Linked DNA regions of Homo sapiens: all the other regions are reported to be linked to region 2. Evidence: microRNA targets listed by miRTarBase, many of them from high-throughput screens and not tested one by one. Region 2 holds a microRNA gene; each other region holds the end of a gene's coding sequence. Distances are between the middles of the regions.
What was found. Region 2 holds the annotated microRNA hsa-miR-6740-3p (UGUCUUCUCUCCUCCCAAACAG, at 4,065-4,086, shown strand). A microRNA usually pairs through its seed, bases 2 to 8, with sites in the 3' UTR of a target mRNA and lowers its output. Matches are read on the target gene's strand: a 7mer-m8 pairs with bases 2 to 8, a 7mer-A1 pairs with bases 2 to 7 and ends in A, and an 8mer does both.

Region 1 (8,184 bases), not on the chromosome of region 2:
GAAAGACTCAGAAACCTATTTTTTAAAAAATACAGATAAGCAGCTTATCATTACTTGGCCAATAATGGTTCTTTATCCATTAAATATGTACTTTATTACAGAGGTTAGTAAAACAGTCTCTGCTTTCCAGGACCACACTATCTAGTGGTAGAAACAAATGCACGTGCTGATAACCAAAGTATGACTCAGAACACCACAAATATCTTACTAGAGATAAAATCAAGATGTTACAGGAATTCCGGGAGAGATGGGTTACTTTTACCTAGCGATGTGTGTGTTGGAGAGACAGGAGCTGCATGGTCAAAAAAGTCATGTGCACAGCATGTGGACTAAAACCTACCAGTCAAGAGAGATGGAGAAGGGGATAGTACAGGCAGGGAGAACTGGCAGATGCATTAGGGGTGCAGATTTATACAAAAGACTAGACTGGTTTGGCTAGAGTGAAGCTGCTTGCCTGGGAGAACAGGATGGAATGGTAGCATGGGCCCAGATACTGAGAGGCTTTACTGCTGCACTGTGTTGGCTTCAACTCCTGTGCCCTACTGGCCCTTTGTGTGAGTATGTGTATGCCCTCTGGGAGCTGCCAGCTGGGGTTTAAATCCCAGGTCTACCACTTACAAGCATCTTACAATCATTTGCTGGGTGTCCTAGGGCAGTTCTTAACCCTTCTAAGCTTTAGTGCACTTATCTATAAAAATGAATAAATAATAATACCTATGCATGTGAAGTGCATAGCAAAGTGACATTTATAATAGAGTAAGTGGTAAAAAAGTAGTTATTATACTATTTTCCTAGTTGAACAATACGCAGTATTTCTGCTTTTCCTGTTCAGTAGGGGGAGAATGAAGATAGAATCGTAGGGGAATCAACTCCTTTCTTTGAAAACTGGTGAATAAAGGGGAAAAAAATCAAACATTTATTCTCCCTTTGTTATATGAGCCATACTACTGAATAATCACATAATAAATGAGCAGACATTTTTCTTTATAGGATTCCTCAGCTGATTAATGAATAAAGAATGATAGAAGTAGAATATCACCAATTGCAGTGCTTAATGAACTAATGGATCTATACATAGATCATAATGGTAGCTAGCACTCAAAAAGAGAGGCAACCATTTATTACATGCCTCCAGATAGAGGAACATTACCTGTGAAATAGTCTTGTCAAAAAGATTTGAACCTGTGTCTGATCAAGCCTCTAGATCCATATATTAAGTTATGGAAAATATGAGGACATAAAGACATATTATTAAGGAATACCACAGGGATGTAGAAAAATGAAGGTTTTAGGAGACTCAACAAATAAAAATCTGATTTTTGTCAACAAATAAATTGCAGGATGGAGTGGGGGTCTGGGGGATCTTACAGATCAAAGGATGCCTAAAAGACTTATCAGCCAATCATAATGAGTAAATTTTAATTGGCTATTGATTGAAACTATTTTTTAAAATTATGACATTTATGAGCTAGTTGAAAATTTGAGCACTGCTTAGATATTTCATGATATTTAGGAGTTACTAATCACTAATTTTTTAAGAGGTGATAGTGTTTTTTTATTTAAAAAAAACTACATAGTGAATGGGGAAAATGAAAAAGTATCATGATTATGGTGGTAAACTGCTCTTATTTCTTCATTTTAAAGCATTTTCCCTAAGAAACATGTGCTTTTTATTTGTTTTTCAGGTTGCTGCATGATCTCAACTTTTCCAAAAATGAGATCCATAGTTTTACAGCATAATGAAGAGCTGTCATTGTCCTTTATTCAACTAGTTTATCTAAATTTGTGATTGCTTAGGGTTTTTTAAGAGAACATTTTTGTACATAACAAAAGGTTAACTAGAATCCAGCCTTCAGTTTCTTAAATGAAATCAAATGTTCCTTCAGTACAGGTAACTTCTTGGCTTTCTTTTGTACCACAACTTATTTTACTACTGATATTTGACCTGGAAAGTTAATCATGGCAACAAATACATACAGGATTCTTTGTTATGAATCACAAATTTCCTTGCCATTTAAATTATATCACTGTTCTACAATAAGCACTTGTGTTTTATGACATGATAAAGTAAATGATCACTTCGATCATGTTTCTATGCTGTAAAATGTCTTATTAGCAATACAGATTAAATTTTACCTTGCACTGTTAACTCAGGAAATGATCATTTATGTCCTTGTTATTAATGTTAAAACATAGAATGTTATAACTTATTAAGTGATCCAAACATTTTTTTGTGTGTGTATGGCATTGATGCAGAATAGAATAAAATTATACTTAAGTTCTTTTTAATCCTTGTGGTAGAAATGTGGTTGAATGCAACAATATTGGGCCAGCGTCTCAAGGGGAATTTTAAAAGGCAGCAATAAAATATATTAGAGACATGACACACATGCGCCTTTGGACTAGGTGTGTTAACAGAGCTTGAGAGAGGGAACCTTGACAGCTATTTTTACTCTTAGCCAAAAACAAAGACATTAGGAAAGAGAGTGAAAGTATAGTGTCTAGTTCCACAGCATAAAGTTATTATTTGGTGCTTTGGAATGGGTTGAATTTTAATTCTTTAGTCCATCTAAATCAGCTGGAAAAATGAGGAACATTCTGCCTTGAATGGTTCTTCCCCTGGTTGGCTGCTTTCTCCACAACTGGTGGTTCAGCAGGAAGCCCTCTTAGGTTCTTGCATGTGGGCAACTTATTTTCTCTTCCTGCTGCTTTGTGCAACTGTCAAATACTTTCACAGATTCAGATCAGCAAAGGGTATCAAGGATAGTCATTGTGAGCTTTTCGTGAGGAAACTGTTGAATGCATAGGTAGCTACTGTATAAGCTAACTAGGATTTTTCAGTCTTAGTACAGCTGCAATGTTTTCACAGAAATAGGGGATTGAAAGAGTCTCCAATTTCTCTGTAAATGATTTTGTAAACAGCTAAATCTTTGCTGAATGAATAATATACTCAAGAGGAACACAATATTAATATTCCCCAAATTACAGACGCCCAGCTTGTGAAGCTTCCTATGTGCAAATGGCTGGTTGAACACTATCACTTTTTCCTGTGCCTCTGTCTTCTGTAGCCAATTCCACCATCATCATTATTCACAAAGACAGGAATCTAGCTGTCCTGGACTGGTACTGTTCCCTGGTAGGTAACAAGAACTTTTTCTAGCTTCATGCCTTCCCCCTACTTATTTTTTTCCATCTAAGGGTGAGGTGATTTGGCTCTGTGTCCTCACCCAAATCTCCTCTCAAATTGTAATTCCCACATGTCGAGGGAGGGTCTTGGTGGGAGGTGATTGGATCATGGGAGTGATTGCCCCCATGCTGTTCTCATGATGGTAAGTGAGTTCTCATGAGATCTGATGGTTTAAAAGTGTGGCACTTCCTCCCCACCTCCTGCTGTATTATGAAGAAGGTCCTTGCTTCTTCTTTGCTTTCTACCATAATTGTACATTTCCTGAGGCCTCCCCAGCCATGCAGAACTGTGAGTCAATTAAACCTCTTTTCTTCATAAATTACCCAGTCTCAGGTAGTTCTTTATAGCAGTGTGAAAATAGACTAATATAAAAAGAGACTATTTACCACTTTTTTTTAGTTCATTTGCGATGTATCAAATCTAACTTAGCCAACATCTTTCTCATCTTTTCTAAGCCTCTTCTTTTTTCTCTCTCCTTTCCCAAGCAACAGAATCTCCTATTAGTCGCTATATGTAATGCTTCCTCATTCCTCCTTTTATGTTTTATATTTTTGTTTATATTTTATTTATATTTTGTTTATATTTTGTTATATTTTATTATATTTTGTTATATTTATATTTTGTTTATATTTTAAAACAAATCCATAAGTGTCTCCTGGGTAATCTCCACTGACATGATTTTATCAACTTACATGTTAATTCCCAAATGGGAGTGACTAATTTGAGAATCAGCTGAGCTTCAGTTTTCAATATCCATTTACTTCCTGCATACCACCCCACCATCCACCTAGTAAGCCATTCTAGAACTATTAGGAATCAACATCAATGTCCCCTTCTCCAGTCTGACTCTTCCATACCAGCTAACCCTGTCCTATCATCCCTCAGCTGGATTAGTACAGTAGCTTGATAATTCATCTTCATGCTGCAGTCCTGATCTCCTAAAATTCATTCTCCATTCCAGGGTATTCTAGAAGGACTTGGAGGAAAAAATCCCCTAAGTAGAGCCTCAGTCTTCCAATGAATGCAACCAAATACTGAGGAGCACAGATAGGAGTATAGTTTATCACTGTTATTCTCAAGCAAATAACTCAAAGACTCCTACATCACATATTTGCAGTGAAGAAGAATTACGCTCAAAGTCACATTTGCTTGCAAATTCTGCTTTTTTTAAAAAAAAGTTTATTAATTTTCTATTGCTGCTAGATCAAATTACTACAAACTTAGTAGCTTAAAACAACACCCATTTATTATCTCACAGTTCCATGGCACAGAAATCTAGGCACAATATGGCTCAACTGGGTCCTCTGCTTAAAGCCTCACAAGGCTGTAATCAGATTGTCAGCTGAGCTGGGCTCTTAGCTAGAGGCTGTAAGGGGAAGTCCCTAGATAAGAGTTCTTTCAGCCTCATTAGGTAGATTTCAGTTCCTTGCAGTTGTAGGACTGAGTTCCCCATTTCCTTGCTAGCTGTTAGCTGTGGGCTAGTCTTTGTTTCTAGAATTTGCCCACATTCCTTCTCATACTTTCTGTGTGGCCCTCTTCAGCATTAGTGGATGAATCTCATGCTTTCAGTCTCTCTGAATTCCCTTGTGGGCTTCTTCAGCATTGGTAGATGAATCTTATGCTTTCAATCTCTCTGAATTCCCTTTCTGCCATATCTTTCTTGCCCTAGCAAGAGTTCACTGCTTTTAAGATCTCATGTGGTTAGATTGGACCTATCCAGATATCCAGGGTAATCTTCCTATTTTAAAAATCTATAATTTTAATTATAGCTGTAAAGTCCCTTTTCCTATATAATATATTCAAAGGTTGCAGGCATTTGGGTGTTGACATCTTTGATGGGCACATTGTGTCTACCACAGGCTATAGAAAGAACAGAGAAATTTGTCCAAGATAAGATGATTAGGTTTTGTCTAGATAGGGGCCCTTGCTATGGGCCCTCAGTTTTTACCTTAATGTAACAGAACATGAGAGGAGCTTTGACACCCACCCCAAAAGAGTCAACTTCATTATGCTGGCAAAGGCATGGGTACAACCTGCTCTGTGATCTACCTTCTGAACCACACAAGCTTGTCCTGAACGAGGTTGGGGCTGAGTCTGTTGATAACAGACCCCCATTTTTGGGCAGAAAAAACAGATTCTGTATGATCTACAGTATTTAACATTGTGGCAAATAAATTATAAAGGAAAAATGGAATCTCAAGTAGTTACAGTCTCTTGGTGTCTTTCAACATTGGTTTTATTTTGAAGTCATTTTCACCCAGCATTGCAAGTTTAGCAGACCTCAAAACAGAATGCCAAAGTGATCTTAAAATTCAAAAATGAGTTTACTTTCTTTGTTAAAGTTCTCTTTTGATGCATATCCCCCATTCATGGAATGGAAGCATTATCTTGGGTGCAGCATTACACGTAGAGTTAAAATGTGGAAACAACCCAAACATCCTGATATGGTTTGGCTCTGTGTCACCACCCAAATCTCATCTTGAATTGTACTCTCATAATTCCCATGTGTTGTGGGAGGAACCCAGTGGGAGATAATTTGAATCATGGGGGCAGTTTCCCTCATACTGTTCTCATGGTAGTGAATAACTCTCACAAGACCTGGTGGTTTTATCAGGGGTTTCCGCTTTTGCATCTTACTCATTTTCTCTTGCGGCCGCCATGTAAGAAGTGCCTTTCACCTCCTGCCATGATTCTGAGGCCTCCCCAGCCATGTGGAACTGTAAGTCCAATTAAACCCCTTTTTTTCCCCAGTCTCAGGTACGTCTTTTATCAGCAGCGTGAAAATGGACTAATACAGTAAATTGGTACCAGTAGAGCAGGTGTTGCTGCAAAGATACCGGGAAATGTGGAAGCAACTTTGGAACTTGGTAACAGGCAGAGATTGGAACAGTTTGGAGGGCTCAGAAGAAGACAGGAAAATGGGAAAGTTTGGAACTTCCTTGAGACTTGTTGAATGGCTTTGACAAAAATACTGATAATGATATGGACAATGAAATCTAGACTGAGGTGGTCTCAGGTGGAGATGAGGAACCTGTTGAGAACTGGAGCAAAGGTGACTCTTGTTATGATTTAGCAAAGAGACTGGCGGCATTTTGCCCCTGCCCTGGAGATTTGTGGAACTCTGAACTTGAGAGAGATGATTAAGGGTATCTGGTGGAAGAAATTTCTAAGCAGCAAAGCATTCAAGAGGTGACTCAAGTGTTGTTAAAGGCATTCAGTTTTAAAAGGGAAGCAGAGCATTAAAATTCAGAAAATTAGCAGCTTGACAATGCGATAGAAAAGAAAATCCTATTTTCTGAGGAGAAATTCAAGCTGGCTGTAGATATTTGCATAAGTAACAAGGAACTGAATGTTAATTTCCAAGACAATGGGGAAAATGTCTCCAGGGCATGTCAGAGACATTTGTGGCAGCCTCTTCTATCACAGACCTGGAGGTCTAGGAAGAAAAAATGGTAAAAATGGTTTTGTGGGCAAGGCCTAGGGTCCTTGTGCTGTGTGCAGTCTAAGGACTTGGTGCCCTGTTTCCTAGCCACTCCGGCCATGGCTGAAAGGGGCCAACATGAAGCTCAGGCCATGGCTTCAGAGGGTGAAAGCCTTAAGCCTTGGCAACTTCCATGTGATGTTGAGCATGTGGGTGCACAGAAGTCAAGAAATGGGGTTTGGGAACCTCTGTCTAGATTTCAGAAGATGTATGGAAATGCCTGGATGCCCAGGCAGAAGTTTGCTGCAGGGGCGGGGCTCTCATGGAGAACCTCGGCTAGGGCAGTGCAGAAGGGAAATGTGGGGTTGGAGCCCCCTCACAGAGTCCCTACTGGGACACCGCCTAGTGGAGCTGTGAGAAGAGGACCACTGTCCTCCAGACCCCAGAATGGTAGATCGACTTACAGCTTGTACCAGGTGCCTGGAAAAGCTGCAGATACTCAACACCAGCCCATGAAAGCAGCCAGGATGGAGGCTGTACCCTGAAAGCCACAGGGCCAGAGCTGCCCAAGACCATGGGAAGCCACCTCTTGCATCAGCGTGACCTGGATGTGAGACCTGGAGTAAAAGGAGATCATTTTGGAGCTTTAAAATTTGACTGCCCCACTGGATTTTGGACTTCCATGGGCCCTGTAACCCCTTTGTTTTGGCCAATTTCTCCCATTTGGAATGGCTGTATTTACCCAATACCTGTACCCTCATTGTATCTAGGAAGTAACTAGCTTGCTTTTGATTTTACAGGCTCATAAGTGGAAGGGACTTGCCTTGTCTCAGATGAGACTTTTGAACTGTGGACTTTTGGGTTAATGCTGAAATGATTTAAGACTTTGGGGTACTGTTGGGAATGCATGATTGGTTTTGAAATGTGAGGACATAAGATTTGGAGGAGCCAGGGGTGGGATGATATGGTTTGGCTCTGTGTCCCCACCCAAATTTCATCTTGAATTATACTCCCATAATTCCCATGTGTTATACGTGGGACCTGGTGGGAGATAATTTGAATCATGGGGGTGGTTTCCCCCATACTGTTCTCATGGTAGAGAATAAGTCTCATGAGATCTGATGGTTTCATCAGGGGGTTCCGCTTTTGCATCTTACTCATTTCTCTTGCTGCCACCCTGTAAGAAGTATTTTTAACCTACCGCCATGATTCTGAGGCCTCCCCAGCCATGTGGAACTATAAGTCCAATTAAACCTCTTTTTCTTGGCTTAATTTCTTGGGTATGTCTTTATCAGCAGTGATTCTATTCCTATGAAATGTCTAGAACAGGAAAATCTATGAGACATAAAGTAATTAAGTGGCTGTTCAGGGGATACAGGAATAGGGGATAATAACTAAAGGGTTGGGAGGGTGTTTTTGAAATGCTAAAATATTCTGAAGTTTACTGTGGTTATGGTTGCACATACTTATGAATATACCTAAAAATGTTGAATTGTACATTTTAAGTAGATGAATTGTATCTAATTTGAACCATATCTCAGTAAAGATATAAAAATGTTTTTGGGTACTAAGACTA
Region 2 (8,184 bases):
AGGATGCAGTGAGCCGAGATCGTGCCACTGCACTCCAGCCTGGGCAACAGAGCGAGACTCTGTCTCAAAAAAAAAAAAAAAATCAAATCATTTTCTAAAAATAAGGCCGGGGGCTGGGCGTGGTGGTTCACGCTTGTAATCCCAGCACTTTGGGAGGCCAAGGCGGGCATATCACCTGAGATCAGGAGTTTGAGCTTGGCCAACGTGGTAAAGCCCCCTCTCTACTAAAAATACAAAAATTAGCTGGGCGTGGTGGTGCACACCTGTAATCCCGGCTACTCAGGAGGCTGATGCAGAAGAATCGCTTGAACCCAGGAGGAGACGGAGGTTGCAGTGAGCCAAGATCACGCCATTGCACTCCAGCCTGGGTGACAGAGTGAGGCTTTGTCTCAAAAAATAAAATAATAAAATAAATGAAATAAGATAAAATAAAAATACAGTACTTTGATAAGGAAAGGTAACTGTCAGAAAGGTGCGATTCCCCCAGTCCTCACTTAGGAGAGAGACCAACAGCCTGAGTTAACCAAGTCCTTTGTAGCCCACAGCAACAGGGAGCTAGGGACTGAGTCAGGCTCTCTGTAACTGTCCCTATTTGCCCTGGGTCCCCAGGAGGGTAATGTTATTAAGCTTCAGGTATCTGTCGCTGTTCTTCTTGAGGCCACAAGGAGGCAGCACAGTGTCTCTGTCAGGAAAATACACTTGGATGTGGTGACAGACGTTTTCCCGAGGCTTACGTTTGATTCTGCACCAGGCGCTGCGTACACCTGCTTGGAGGCTGCAACGGGGCGGGCTCTGCTGCGTCAGCACATGGACATCACTGGAGAGGAAAACCCACTCAACAAGCTCCGCGTGAAGATTGAACCAGGTCCAGGAGGCTCCTCTGTCTGACACCCACTCCCCTCAATTGAGCTTGGAGCCCCAAGTTAATGCGAACTTCATGTTGATCAGTGCACGCTTAGAATACTTTATTTGGAGGGAGGGGCACTCCAGAGCTCTTTGTAGCCAATTCTCTGGCCCCTGGGCTGACTGAACCCAAGCCATTGCAGCCAGATAGGAGTTCTGTCCAGTCTGTGCGGTTCGTGATGACTTCACCATTGCTTTGCATTTGCACAAGTCCATATCGTTTTACCAGGCTCTTTCGCATTCCTTCATGATCATCAGGGCAGATCTGTGGATTCTGTAGAATAAAAGCATTAGCCTTATTTTACAGAGGATGGGACTGAGTGCCAGACAAGTTAAGTGTCTTGTCCAGGTCATGTACCTAATCAGTGCATGACTGCAACTGAGATCCGGGTCCTCTCTCCAAATTCAGATCTTTTTACTTCCTAACATTTTCCTTCATTCCATGTGTGACTAATCTGAAACCTTTTTATGCAATTGAAGCTCATGTTCCTTGATGCCGTTAAGTTTGCAGATGAATTTCTTAGAGACGGGTAATTAGTTTTAGCCTGGAACAGCTGTAAAAACAACACATTGGCTGGGCATGGTGGTTCACGCCTGTAATCCCAGGTCAAAGCGGGTGGATCATGAGGTCAAGAGTTCGAGACCAGCCTAGCCAATATGGAGAACCCTGTCTCTACTAAAAATACAAAAATTAGCTGGGTGTGGTGATGCACACCTGTAATCCCAGCTACTGGGGAGGCTGAGGCAGGAGAATCGCTCGACCCCAGGAGGCAGAGGTTGCAGTGAGCTGAGATCGTGCCACTGCACTCCAGCCTGGGTGATAGAGCAAGACTCCGTCTTAAAAAAAAAAAAAAAAAAACATTGATCTGGGAGGGTAGGTTGAGTATTTAGGTGGTGACCAATAGGGATGGAAAAGACACAGCTTGGTGCTCAGTGGGAAATGCTGATGGAACCTACCCACACAAAGTGTATCCTGGGACTAAGGAAATGTGTCCGCTCCTCTGGAAGGCTGGTTTCTCTGTCTTCATATTAGATCCACAGTGAATGGCCCTCTGAGATCTTGGAAGTACCTTGAGAGAGGCCAATATCTGGAGAGAGATCTTGGCCTTGAGATAGAGATCTTAAGAGAGAGAGTCTTGGCCTTGAGAGAGTCCAAGATCTGGAGAGAGGCCAGGATCTGGACACCTTCTTGGCCTTGCTGTCCCTGGGGAAGCTGAATTCTGATCTCTTCCATCGCTAGTCTTTGACTGTGGAGCTAGAGAAGAACGTTACGGGTGACAGGCTACAAAAGCTCAAATCTTGTCTGCTTTCTCCTCTGCCAGGCGTTGACCCGGACGACACCTATAATGAGACCCCCTACGAGAAAGGTTTCTGCTTTGTTTCATACCTGGCCCACTTGGTGGGTGATCAGGATCAGTTTGACAGTTTTCTCAAGGTATAGTCACATGAGGGGAGAAGGAAGAGGAGCGGATAAAGCCACTGGGCCTGATCAAGGGTAGAGGCAGGGGGCGAAAGATGTAAGGGGTTGGAGGAGGACCCAGGACACAGAGGGACACCACTCCCCACGGGGCCAGAGAGGGTCTAAAGAGCTTTCCCTCCTCACAGGCCTATGTGCATGAATTCAAATTCCGAAGCATCTTAGCCGATGACTTTCTGGACTTCTACTTGGAATATTTCCCTGAGCTTAAGAAAAAGAGAGTGGATATCATTCCAGGTAAGCAGAGGAACTGGCCCACAGGCTTCTAAAAAATAGTAGAGAATGAGATCTCATTGACACTCGGAAAGATGGTGGTGGATGGGAAAACACTGGGTCAGAGTCAGCTAGGTAGGGGCGTTTTGGGAAGCAAACCCAGAATCCTGGGATTTATTCCACAAGAATGACTTCTTTTCACTCCTCTCTGCCTCATTTTCTCCCAGTCTGTTTCCTTACTCTCTCCTCTCACCTGGACACACAGTCAGACCCTTAACTTGCCTGGAGAGCTGCCACTGCTGCCGCACCACTGCCCCAAGCTAAAACTCACAGGGCAGGAGCGGAGGCAGCACCCCTCCTACAGCCTTCTGAGTGAAGGCAACCCCAGTGGCCCTCCTTATTTCTTTCTTTCTTTTCTTTTCTTTTTTTTTTTTTTTGAGATGGAGTTTCGCTCTTGTTGCCCAGGCTGGAGTGCAATGGCACGATCTCGGCTCACCGCAACCTCCGCCTGCCGGGTTCAAGCGATTCTCCTGCCTCAGCCTCCCGAGTAGCTGGGATTACAGGCACGCGCCACCACGCCCGGCTATTTTGTATTTTTAGTAGAGACGGGGTTTCTCCATGTTGGTCAGGCTGGTCTCGAACTCCTGACCTCAGGTGATCCACCTGCCTCGGCCTCCCAAAGTGCTGGGATTACAGGCGTGAGCCGCTGTGCCCAGCCGCCAGTTTCTGCCTGGGAGGTACCACTTCCAAAGAAAAAACGAAAAATGTCCTGTCATGGAAGACACAATCCATTAGACATACCCCCACTTCTTGCTGTGACCTGAACCTTGAGTCACTCTATTGTTGGTTTGATGAAGTCCGCGTCCTCTGACAGTAGGATTGGTCAGGACTTTAGCAGCACCTACTGTTCGGTTGGAGGCTTGCATTTTAATGCGGGGACTCCGGAGCTAATGGTAGTTAATAATTCCAGAGTACTTACTATGCATCAGGCGATACGCTAAGCTTTTAATGTTTATTTGCTCATGTAATCCTCATAACCATCACGGAGGCAGGGCCTATCACCCCCACTTTATAGATAAAACTGAGGTGCAGAGAGGTGAAGTAACATGCCCGTGGCCTCCCAGCTGGTTAATGACAGAGCAGGGGTAGGAACCCAGGCAGCCTGGTCCTAGAGCCTGGGTGCTTAAGTACAGTGTGGTTGTGATCGGTAGGAGAATGTGCACGTGAATAGAGCATCCACCAACTTGGCTCTGACAACACAGTGCTAATTTGGAGCGAAAAGCACTTTCACGGTCGAAACGGCACAGTCTCTAGATGTCGTTATAACTAGGACCCTGCTGGAGCGAATAGTTACATGGGAAAGTAATGTTAAATGCTGGGGAAAGAGTTTGGGATGGAGAGAGGAGAAACTTGAGGTCTCTGGGAGTTGCTTAAACCAGTTGACCGTAACCTGGCCAGAGAATTCTGATAGTGTCTTCTCTCCTCCCAAACAGGTTTTGAGTTTGATCGATGGCTGAATACCCCCGGCTGGCCCCCGTACCTCCCTGATCTCTCCCCTGGGGACTCACTCATGAAGCCTGCTGAAGAGCTAGCCCAACTGTGGGCAGCCGAGGAGCTGGACATGAAGGCCATTGAAGCCGTGGCCATCTCTCCCTGGAAGACCTACCAGCTGGTCTACTTCCTGGATAAGATCCTCCAGAAATCCCCTCTCCCTCCTGGTAAGAAAAAATGGTGAACCAGGGCTCCTTGTGTGCACAGCTTTATGTCAGGGGCTAGAGGGAGGCTCACAAAAAGTAGTGATGCTTGCCCCTAGGGAACTGCCACGTACACTAGGGAGGCTGGCACTCCACAAGGAATGTGCCACCGGGAGGTTATGGGTTAGGGGACTGCCACGTACACTAGGGAGGCTGGCACTCCACAAGGAATGTGCCATCGGGAGGTTATGGGTTCTACTTACAAGCACCTCAAGGACAAAGTCACAAAGCCTGGCATTGCTCAAGTCCGAAGCTCCTGCAGGCGACTCTTGTAAGGCTTTTGTGTCTATTAAGTCATTTAATTCCCACAACTCCTCTGGGAAGTAGGCGGTGTGATGTTAATACCCAGGTGACAGAATGAACTTGAGGTACAAACAGTTCGCACAGAACCCAGTCATCCAGAGCTCTCAACCTCTAATGCTTTGTGGCTGCTCAGTCAACATAATATTCACCAAGGGGTTAAAAAAAAGTTAGAGCCAAGATGACTTTTAGCAGATGAGTGGTAGGAGAAAAAATGGGACAGATATTGGGGGAATATGTCTGCTTTAATCTTGCTCTGTCGACCAGGCTGGAGTGCCGTGGTGCTATTGGCTCACAGCAACCTCCACCTTCTGAGTTCAAGTGATTCTTGATTCTAGCACCTCAGCCTCCAAGTAGCTGGGATTACAGGCGTGCGCCACCACACCCGGCCAGTTTTGTTTGGTATTTTTAGTAGAGATGGGGTTTCGCCATATTGGCCAGGCTGGTCTCACATTCCTGACCTCAAGTGATCCGCCCACCTCAGCCTCCCAAAATTCTAGTATTACAGGTGTGACCCACCGTGACCAGCCACAAACCATTTCTTTCTCTTCTCCAGGGAATGTGAAAAAACTTGGAGACACATACCCAAGTATCTCAAATGCCCGGAATGCAGAGCTCCGGCTGCGATGGGGCCAAATCGTCCTTAAGAACGACCACCAGGAAGATTTCTGGAAAGTGAAGGAGTTCCTGCATAACCAGGTGGGTGACCCCTGCCTCGCTGTTCCCGAAAGCACACTGGGACCCACTCGGCCATATGTGAAGTAATCATGTGGGCAGGGCTCATCTAGGACTCATCTGAGGCACAGAGGGAGGGGCAAATGACCTGAGGACCCTACCACTCAGCCTCTTTACTAGTGTGGCTTTGAAGGCATTGCCCTAGGGACAAGAGGAGGCCTGCAGGCTTGCAGTGCTTTCTGCAATTCAGCTGGTGAGACCCCAGGGAAAAAAGCTGGCCAGAGCCAACGCAGAGGCGGGAAAGAGGGTGACAGTGTCATGTGGGAAACACAAGAGGGAAAGGGGCCAGAGGCGGAGCAAGAGGAACAAAGGCTTGGAGGATAGGTCCCTGCTGCCCTGTGACTTGGGCATGATCGGGACAGCAGCCAGACCCTCTGTCACTATGTGAAAGTTGCCCTGTTGGGGAAAGGCCCCGGGCTCTCAGGATGAACTGAATGTCATCAGATTCCGGAGCAGGGAGGGGCTGGACCGGAGACGAAGCATTGCTCTGCATAAAGTCAGGGCTGCCTGCCTGTTCGGGGATATTCTGAGCCCTTTGATGGCTTCCTCAAGGCTCTGGATTTTAGGAACTTGTGATGTCGCTGGCTTATATTTGTGTGAATTTGACCTGTGGGTTGACCTGTGGGTTTTCCTTTGCTTGACTGCAGCTGGACCGTATGCGGCTGTGAGCTTTATGTGCCGCAGCTGCTGATATCTGCTATTCACGTGGTGGCTCACCACCTACACCTTTCCAGAAGTCTGGAATCCCATTGTGTCCACCCAACTCATTCATTTTGTTGACTGTAGACGTCCCCATGTTAGTATGGATTGGGACGCGTATTGAGATCCATCTCCATGGATCTCTGGCGCCCAAGAAGATGCCTGAATTAGAGCACTTCTGATGAGAAGCTCCTCATTCCAGCTGTGATGCCCACATCCCTTTTAGCACCTAGCCATGGCTGCTGTTAGACTGGCACTGGGGGCAGCAGGGCTGGACAGATCCACCAGGCAAGCTTCTTAGGCATGTGTATGTGTGTTTCTTGCAGGGGAAGCAGAAGTATACACTTCCGCTGTACCACGCAATGATGGGTGGCAGTGAGGTGGCCCAGACCCTCGCCAAGGAGACTTTTGCATCCACCGCCTCCCAGCTCCACAGCAATGTTGTCAACTATGTCCAGCAGATCGTGGCACCCAAGGGCAGTTAGAGGCTCGTGTGCATGGCCCCTGCCTCTTCAGGCTCTCCAGGCTTTCAGAATAATTGTTTGTTCCCAAATTCCTGTTCCCTGATCAACTTCCTGGAGTTTATATCCCCTCAGGATAATCTATTCTCTAGCTTAGGTATCTGTGACTCTTGGGCCTCTGCTCTGGTGGGAACTTACTTCTCTATAGCCCACTGAGCCCCGAGACAGAGAACCTGCCCACAGCTCTCCCCGCTACAGGCTGCAGGCACTGCAGGGCAGCGGGTATTCTCCTCCCCACCTAAGTCTCTGGGAAGAAGTGGAGAGGACTGATGCTCTTCTTTTTTCTCTTTCTGTCCTTTTTCTTGCTGATTTTATGCAAAGGGCTGGCATTCTGATTGTTCTTTTTTCAGGTTTAATCCTTATTTTAATAAAGTTTTCAAGCAAAAATTAAGTTACGGATTGAGTGACTATTAAATTTCTTCCACCAGAGGTCCTCACTGTGTTTGTTCAGGAAAGGTCACTGGGGGAGGCCCAGAGAATGACAGTATTTTCCTGTCCTCAGGGAACAGCCAGGGTGAAGGAGGTGGGTGTCCTACACATGCATATGAAAAAAAATATGGCAAAATGGCACAGCTGGTGCAGGAAAATGAAAAAGGAATAGCATTCCAGTTCTCCGTGAAGCAGCTGAATTCTCTATCTGCAGCAGCATTCCCATTATCTTTTCCATCACTAAGAAAAAAAAATGGGCTGGGCACGGTGGCTCATGCCTGTAATCCCAGCACTTTGGGAGGCTGAGGCGAGAGGATCGCTTGAGCCCAGGAGTTTGAGACCACCCTGGCCAACATAGCAGGACTTCATCTCTACCAAAAAAAAAAAAAAAAAAAAAAAAAAGCCAGGCGTGGTGGCTCACGCCTGTAATCTCAACACTTTGGGAGGCTGAGGCAGGCAAATCACTTGAGGTCAGAAGTTTGAGACCAGCATGGCCAACATGGTGAAACCCCATCTCTACTGAAAAAAAAGATAGATGCAAAAATTAGCCAGGCATGGTGGCTCACACCTGTAGTTCCAGTTACTTGGGAGGCTGAAGCAGGAGAAACACTTGAACCTGGGAGGTGGAGGTTGCAGTAAACTGAGATCATGCCACTGCACTCCAGCCTGGGTGACAGAGTAAGACTTCTCAAAAAAAAAAAAAAAAAGCTGGGCGTGGTGGTGCATTCCTGTGGTTTCAGCTACTCAGGAGGCTGAGGCAGGAGGATCACTTGAGCCCAAGAGGTCAAGGCCACAGTGAGTCTTGATTGTGCCACTGAACTCCAGCCTGAGTGACAGAGTGAGACCCTGTCTCAAAAATAAAAATAAAGTGTCTTATGACTTTTTATCTACCCTTCTGCCCATGCCCAAGGCTTCACTGGGCCTCACCTGTCTTTGATCCTAGATAACTATTTGAATGGTAATCAGTAAAGTCTTTAGAACTTAGCACTAAATTCTGATTTCCTGGCCTCAACATGGGGACCTAAACAGTTAGCAATCTGGGTTTGGGAGTGGGATGAGGGGAGGGTTGGAAGAAATATTTAGTGTGTTTCATTTGCCTTTCTTAAATACAGGGCACCCCTGAAACAGGCTTTGTTCGCAGCTCTGCTCTGTC
Region 3 (8,184 bases), 160 Mb from region 2:
AGGGAGTGACTGCTAACGGGTAAGGGATTTCCTTTTGGGGTGGTGAAAATGTTCTGGAACGAGACAGTGGTGATCCTTGTATAACTCTGTGAAAACAATAAATCCACACGTAACGTTGTTGATAGGTTCTTGGAAATGGTGACTTTAGCGGGAAAGAAATGTAGAGTAGATCCTCGAATAATGTTTCCTTCAATGGAGTTTTGTCGTTACATTGATGAGAAAAACATTTCGCTTGATGTCACAGTCCCTTAGAACCTATCAACGATGTTAAGTGAGGATTAAAATCCACTGAATTGTGTGCCTTGAAAGGGTGAATGTTATAGTGTATAAATTATATCTCAATTTTAAAATGTAGCCAAACAATAAATAGGGAATAAATAGAAAAATTTATGTACAAGTGTACCACACAGTGTTATTTTATTGGTGGTGTAGGGGAGGAAAAAAATTGTTTTCCTGTATCCTTTTATAGACTGTGACTGGGGCTTGCAAATTAAACTGACAAAAGACTAATGAACAGGAGAAAAGGCATACAGATTTTATTTGATGTTCCTACTTTAATTGTGATGTACATGAAGGCATTGATTGCATTCATAGAAAAGAAGTGAAGACCCTTTGTTAAAATGGTATATAAGCCCCCTACCATTTTAACAAAGGATGATACATTTGTGGAGAAATGACAAGATAAAGGAAAAGGGCTTTGTGTTCCTAGGGGTGGCAAATTGTGGGAAGATAAATATGTGGGGAAATTAATGGAAGATCAGGGTGATTTCAGCAAGATTGGTTTGTGCAGACTCGTCTTCTTACTGACTTTTTGTCTTCAGTGCTAACTAACGGTTGTTCTCTTCCTGCTATAAGAGAGGGAAGGAGAAGAATCTTCCCAAAGGAAAATTTATGTCCCGCTTTTGGGCAGATGTGGGAGGGCAAAGAGCTCTTTCTACACGTGCAGTTTCTTAATTGCCTTTAGCTCAAAACAATCCTGATGCAAAAGTGGCATATTTGGGGTGGCACGTTCTGATCTTCTTCAGTGGGAAATTGGACAAACTTAAATATACACCTACAGGGTAATACATGCCCACATATGGTATTTTATGGGGCAGCTGTATCATGATGTATTATGTAGCTATGAATAAAATTTTGGTTTTGGAAATTAAAAAAAATTAAATAAAGTACTTAGGACAGTATCTGACATCTACTAAGTGCCTTTAGTGTTGGCTGTTATTAATGAACCCGAGGACAATCCTGTAACCTTGGGCTCCTCATCCCCATATGGCAGATGAGGAAACTGAGGCTCGGAGAGGCAGCATGACATGGATGTTCTGCCCCTCCTTCCGGTCTGCTGTCAGGGAAGGGCAGGGTCTTGGCATCAGGCTATTCTGGAGCCCGCCTAGGCTCTGCCACTTTCTAGTGGCAAGGTCTTGGTCCAGCACCTTCCTGCACCACTCTGAGCCTCTGCTGGCCTCAGTGTCCTGCCTGTGGAGGGAGTCATAGCGTTGCAGAAGGATTCTCTGAGCATGTGCAGACTAGCCTGAGACTCCTTGGGTAATGTTGGTACTGTGCTTCTGTGACAGGCCCCAGGCAGTGGAACTAGGACCAAATAGGTAGAGACCCCAGAGACAGGATCACTTTCCACAGCCTGCCTCGCCTGGAGGTAGTGAGCCAGACATCCCTCAGGGGGACCTGCAGGCCAGGGAAGGAAACTTCAGGAGGAGGCAATTCAAGCAGAGGCCAGGGGCATGGCCTTTCCCCATCCAGCCAGTGTCCCCAGGCCCTTTTTAAGCCAATTGTCCTTGAGAAAGACACCCCGCCTCCCCAGGGCCTCAGTTTCCCTTGCTGAACCAGTCTAGCATGGTGGTTATGATTAATACAGTCTGGGGGCCCAGATTGCCTGGGTCCACATCCCAGCTTCCCTGCTTTTGCTTTCTAACTGCATGACCCTGGGCAGGGAAATTCGCTTCTCTGAGCCTCAGTTTCCTCATCTGCAAGATGGAGATGAGAGCAACACTTATCTTACTTCTTGTAAGAAAAGTGAATGCAATGTTCTCACTAGTACTCAGTGTACTGGCAGAGTCTGGTGCTCTGACAGCCTCAAGGCCTGTTGGCTATTACAGTTACTATGACTGTTTTATTAGCTGTGAAGGGACTGGAGGACACGTGTGTGCCTGGAGGCAGGGGCTGGCCCCCCGAGTCCCCGTCCCCCAGTTCCCAGCCTGCAGTCCCCCTCGCTGCTTTCAGCACCAAGTGATCGACAGGCTGGGCCAGTGGCATCCTGGCAGGCCTGTCCTGGCAGCTGCTCCCACAAGGCGAGGCCCTGTGAGCTGCAGAGAATTAATTAGGCTGCATTCCTCTTCCAGGGCTCCTGGCGGGCCCGCACACGGCCCCCTTCTTAGCTGCCGAGGGCTTTTGGCTTGGATCCCTGGCAGGCCAAGGCGAGGCCCACACTCTGCTCTCCCCTGAGAGGGGCTGGGAGGGCCCTTGTGAGCTGGAAGCATTGGCCGGGAAGGAGCCAACAATAAACCAGCCACCCAAGGCCAGCTCCCGTCCTGGCTCTCCCTCGTTTAGCAACCTTCGCTGGCTACCTATCACTCAAGTTCAAATTCCTGGCATCGGATGCTATTCCCAGCCTGGCCCCTGCTGATCAGGCCTGCTGCCCCTCCCTGGACTCTCTCATGCCCTGGCCAGATCTGCCTTACACCATTCCCACCAAGCCCTTTCCCTCATCCCAGCCTGCACAAGCCTTGCCAGTCCTTCACCCCCCATCCCACCAGCTACAAGGCCAGCTCCACCTCTGGACCTTCGTTTTGCTCTTGTCTGTCTTCCCTGCCAGGCTGTGAGACCTGAGCGGGCAGCCAGAGAGGTTTCCAGAGGCCTGAAGCCCTCATGGAGGGCATGCTGGGCATGGTAGTATTTTCCAGGGAGGCATTTTCTGAGGCTGTGGTGGGGGTGAAAGAGGTGGTGGCCTCTGCTTCCTAGAGCACCCCCATGCCAGATGCTCGGGGCTTGGTCTGGTGCTCAGGCATGCACTGCCCCTTCCTGCCTGCCCCTTCCAGCCGTTCCCAGGACCTCTCCTTTTACTCCCCAAAAGAGGCTGGGAATAGCTCCCTTCCTATGAAGACAGGAACCTTCACCTATGCTGTTTCCTCTGCCTGGAATGCTCTTCTCCACCCTCTTCCTTGACCGACTTCCCCCGAGTTGGCCTAGATGTCCCCATCTCCAGGAAGCCACCCTGGGCTCCCCCTCCTCAGGGGCTCCATCACAGTGTGGACATACCCTATTAGAGAGGTAGGATAGCACGGAAGTTAAGAGCCTGGGGTTTAAAACCCAGCTAAGCCACATCCTAGCTATATGATTTTGAGCAAGTTACTAACCGCTCTGTGCCTCAGTAACCTTTCCTATCAAATGGAAATAGTAATGACAGAATTTGCTACATAAGGTTGCTGTAAGGAACCAAGGAGTTAATATGTGGAAAGCACTTAGTAAGTGCTCAGTGAATGTTTGCTGCGATTCTTATCTTCATATTTAACTGTTGTTTTCTTGAATGACTGTCCTCTTGGCCTATGAGGCAGGAACTGTGTCTGTCTTGCTCACGAGAGTCCTCCCAGGGGTGATTATTCATAACTGTTGAATTAATGGATGGCCACATTCCAATAGTTTGTCACCGTGATTAGGCAAATGACTTTTCTGAACTGAAGACTTAGCTACCTGGACTCTATTTTCAATGAGAGAAAGAGAGAGAGAGAGAATTCCACAGGGCTCTTTCCTGAGTGAGGGCTGTGGAGAGGCTGCGAAGGGCCCCGTCTGCAGCCTCACAGCCCTGGACACAGGACCTAACTGCTCTCTGCCTCAGCTTCCTCCTGTCCACATAATCCGAATAAATCTGGGTCATCCTGTGCCCCCTTCTGGCCTGTCTCTGCCTAGTGTTCCAGTTAAAAGGAACACAAATTTGACTCAAAAAGCCTTGAAAAACGCTTGTTCTATATTTATGGAAAAGGCAGGAGGAGGGGAGATTTTGTCCCAGAAAACCCAAGTTTCCTGAAGCTTAGATGCCTTCTTCCCAGGGTTCGGTTTGACCTGGTAGCTGCTCCTTGTAGCTTTTTCTCTACTTCTTTCCAAACTCTAGCCCACCTTCCCCAACATGGCTGAAGTCCCAACTACCTGGAGTGTGGGCTGGAAGCAAGGACAGACTTCGGACATATGTGGCCCTGTGGCCCTGCAAACTTTTTGTCCCATAGAGAGGTATGGCTGGATGAGGGCCAGAACAGGGCCCCCCTGCAGTGCAGGGCCCCAGCCAGAGGCCCCTGTTTCCAAGGTGTATGGGTCTAAAGGACTGTAGTGTCACCCTTACCTGTCCCTGCCTTCTGGGCCTCCTCTACTACTTTAATCATCTCTGTTGCTCAATCATCTGGGTCACTGATCTCTGAACCCTGGCCAGGGTCCCCGGGGCCTGTGCCAAGGGCGGTGAATGCTTCCCTCCAACACACCCTCCGCCAGGTTTTCCTCATGCTGCTGCCAGGCCTCTGTCATAGCTGCGGCCCTAAGGCTGCCTTACCCAGCTGCCTGGCCTGGCCATGGGCTGTTGCATTTGAGTTTTTCAGGGGCAGGGTCATGTTGAATGGGAGCCTGTGATGCACTCCCAGGGAGCGAGGCTCCCCTGGCATCAAGCTCAGCTGAAACGTGAGAGGTGCGCTCTGGCCCTGGGCTGGAGTAGGCAACAAGTGCCTGGGCTGACCCCGTGACACCAGCCTCATCACCAGGATGCGCGGAGGATCCCTAAGGACTTATGATGACTGCTTCTCTGCCACTGGTCTCCTCATTCACTCAGCTCTGGCCAGCCCTCTGTGGCATATTTCCAAAGCTCAGCTCTGCCGAGGTCCCCTGCTGCTCACAGAGCTTTGTGGCTTCCTGTGGCCCACAAGGGGAAGTCGAGGCTCCTAACCTTGACCTTCAAGGCCTCTCTGGCTTTGTGTCCTGCTGCTGCCCCCTTGCCATGGTCCAGACACCTGAGGCCCCTCCTAAGGAAGCTTCTTTGTTACTCCCACTTCCATACTTTCATCCTCCCCGCTCCCTCTGCCTGGAATTCCCTCCCTATTTTCTTTCTATGTATTCAAGTCATTTGAGTGTTTCTTTTTCTTTTTCTTTTAAGCCAGGTCCTCCCTGTGGTGCCCAGGCTGCAGTGCAGTGGCACGACCATAGTTCACTGTAGCCTCGAGCTCCTGGGCTCAAGCAATCCTCTGGCCTCAGCCTCCTGAGTAGCTGGGACCACAGGTGTGCACCACCTCACCCAGCTAATTAAAAACATTTTTTTTTTTTTGTAGATACAGGGTCTCCCTATATTGCCCAGGCTGGTCTTGAACTGCTGGAGTCAAGTCATCCTCCCACCTTGGCCTCTTAAAGTGCTGGGATTATAGTCGTGAGTTGCCACCCCTGGCCTCTTTTGAGTCTTTCTATTTATTTTGCATATCTTTTGAGGCCACAAGAGTAGCACCTTTGTCCAGACTCTTCCTATGACCACCCACCTCCACCCCAGCTAGCCCCCATCTTGCCCCCCCATCAGGCCCCTTAGTTCTGTCCCCGTCCCACTCATTCCATAATCACCATTGCCAGCCCCACAAGCAGCCTCTGCCTCTTGTCAGGCCTTGGGCTGAGCCTGGTACCATCACTTCTCTGCTTAGTGCCCACAGCAACTCTGCGACGTGGGGACAATTGCTTCCCATTTTCTAGATGAAGAAAACTGAGGTTCAGAAACTGAAAGAGATTTGTTCAACATCATACTGCAGTGGTGACTCATGAATTCAATCAGCAAGTATTTATCATGTCCAAAGCCCAAGGTGAGGGGCCAAGCCAGGGCCAAGCTGTGGCTCCATCACAGCACCCCTCACTGACCAGTGGGGCACCCACAGCCTTGGGGTTCACCTGGTCTTCTCCCTCGCTGGACAGCTTTGCTCTGAGCCTTACTGTCAGCCTCTGCTGGGACAGAGCCGCTGGGGCGATGAGTCCCTCCACCCTCGTGTCTTGGCTTCTTCCACACACGCTCCTGGAAAAGGGATGGCCGTTGATTACTGGCCTGATGAGAACATAGCTCCTGGAATCCTGACGTCACAGCTGCAGGTGGCTGTCGAGGCACATGACAGACAAAAGCCCAGAGAGGGCAGGCTAGCAGCCAGAGACACCCAGCAAGGGTGGGAGTGGAACCCAGCGCTCTAGCCACCTGCCCCAGCCCTTTCCTTCTTGTGTCCTCCAACTTCCAAGCGGCCCCTTCTTGAGAGAAGCCTCCAACACCCTGCCTTGGCCAAGACAAAAAACCAGAGTATGTTTCCTCATTTATTATAAACACAAGTTCGCAGGTAAATAGAGGGTCTAAAAAATACATTAAAATAAATAATTGGGATTCTCAAAGTTCTTAGGGCAAATAAGTTATATACAGACAGGAAAAGCAGAGCAGGCCCTTCTCACTGGGAGGGTCCCGAGGGAATGAGGGTGCAAGAACTCTGGGGAGGGAAAGCTGGAGAGGACACAGCCAGCCAGGATGCCAGCCTCAGGGGAGCCATCCAGCCTCCAGGGCTGGCTGAGGCATGCGTGTTCGTGGCTGCACGGTTGCTCCTGGTTTGTAGCCCAGCAGACAGGACACTCCTCAGGACGCAGCCTCCAGATGAATGTACTCCCCATGCAGTTCTTCCAGCAGAGCTGTGGGCCAGCAGCCAGCACTGGAGGCTGCTCCGCAGTCTGGAGGCCGAGGGCTTCCCTGGGCAGTGCGAGGACACAGAACTGCCTTGGACGAGGCTCCCTCACCAGGGAGCTTGTGCCAATCCTGGCAAATGGGTCCAGCTGTCTGGGACCAAGGCCCCGGTCCAGGAAGCAGGCAGAGAGTCCACAAGCCCTGGCCACTTCTCTCCTCCTCTCTCCCCGCGGGCTTCCTTCCCAATGTTCCTCCAGCTCACGACACTATCTCTTCCTCCACCTGGAATGTGTGGACCGAGGCTCCCGCATGGCCTCCTGTTGTCGCTTGGCAAAGAGGCTCTTGACTGTGGAAATGTCCCTGGGAATCAAGAAGGGTCAACTTAGCATCTCAGGAGATATGGACTGTCCAAGAGCTCCCCATGAGAGCAGGGGCAATGGGGCTACAGCCCTTGCCCAGATCCTGGGGTCACAGCGGCCCTGGGGTCAGACAGTGACCACAGCCTGAAAACAAGGTCTGCACAACCAGCGCAGGCCAGCCCAGGCGTTGAAGCTTCTCTGCACATGGGGGCTTTGACAGAGCTAAGGTTCAACATCAAATGCTGCCAGAATGAGTGGACAGCCAAGCACAGCCCTGTGGGTCTCCCGTCATCTGCCTTCCCACTTCTTTCCACAGCTTTCCACACCTTTGCTCCTGCTCTTCCCTCCAGGCTGTGTGTATTCCCCTCACCCAGAAGCCACCTGCTACAATTCTACTCATTCTTCGAGGTCCAGTTCAAGGTAGTCCAGCCCAGAAAACAGGGCACCCCGCTGCCCTTTGAACCTGGCTGGGTGGCCACATCCTGGCTCAAAGAACTCTAAACTGGGAGCCAGGAGGCTGGCTTCAGTTCCTAGCTAAGGAAACTTGGGCAACAATCTCAGCCTCTCTGATCCCCTTTCTTAGCTTGTAAAACAAAAACAGGCCTGAACTGCTGAGAATGAGTACAAGGTTGGCCGAGCCAGCTCTGCACACTATGAAGTGTGCGCTTTTGAAAAGTCTTGTACTCATATTTTTCATTCTCAGAAAGTTCCTAAGTATATGTTGGGTCCCGTCCATCCCACCATCCTGCCTTTTCTCCTGTTTTTCTGCCGCCCCCAAAAGGTGAGAATCTCTGAAGGGCTGAGCTGGGCCCTGGGACCTGGCCAGCTGTGAGGAACCCTCAGTGACAGAAGTGGGAATGGCAAACCCCTCCACAGCTCCCACGGGCACAGACCCTGGTCTACACACTTCATGTGCGTCCACTCATCTGACCTCACAGCAACCCCAGGCGGGGATGGATGGCACAATTTCCCTGTTTCTCCTGTTCAAATCATAGGAACTAGAGGCACAGTGAAGTTGAGGGGCAAACCCAAGGTCACAAAGCTTGTACCAGGCTGGGCTGGGGTTCAGATCAAGCAGTCTGCCCCAGAGGCTGCCCCTACAGCCACTCTGCTGCCCGGCAGGTGCAAGTGTCTGTTCTTGAGTTGGTTTGG

Region 1: the mRNA of CYB5R4 is a reported target of hsa-miR-6740-3p. Seed matches in the 3' UTR shown: 8mer at 6,093-6,100.
Region 3: miRTarBase lists EDN2 as a target of hsa-miR-6740-3p. The part of its 3' UTR that is shown has no 7-base or 8-base seed match.

What each region holds. Positions count from the first base shown.
Region 1 is chr6:83,958,139-83,966,322 of GRCh38, forward strand. It overlaps CYB5R4 (cytochrome b5 reductase 4), which reads left to right. Exons shown (of 16, transcript NM_016230.4): 16 at 1,686-8,184. The coding sequence ends at 1,740. RIPPLY2-CYB5R4 (RIPPLY2-CYB5R4 readthrough) reads left to right here. Exons shown (of 18, transcript NR_174604.1): 18 at 1,686-8,184. Among named protein-coding and RNA genes, the nearest start is that of LINC02857, 59 kb to the right of the region's middle.
Region 2 is chr1:201,999,151-202,007,334 of GRCh38, forward strand. MIR6740 (microRNA 6740) reads left to right here and starts at 3,974; the gene lies at 3,974-4,086. RNPEP (arginyl aminopeptidase) reads left to right here. Exons shown (of 11, transcript NM_020216.4): 6 at 752-865; 7 at 2,226-2,338; 8 at 2,509-2,617; 9 at 4,087-4,311; 10 at 5,204-5,346; 11 at 6,408-6,993. The coding sequence ends at 6,566. It overlaps ELF3-AS1 (ELF3 antisense RNA 1), which reads right to left. Exons shown (of 2, transcript NR_146472.1): 2 at 901-1,177. RefSeq lists an enhancer at 5,182-5,824.
Region 3 is chr1:41,472,470-41,480,653 of GRCh38, forward strand. It overlaps EDN2 (endothelin 2), which reads right to left. Exons shown (of 5, transcript NM_001956.5): 5 at 6,306-7,033. The coding sequence ends at 6,940. Among named protein-coding and RNA genes, the nearest start is that of EDN2, 8.1 kb to the right of the region's middle. RefSeq lists an enhancer at 4,463-5,169.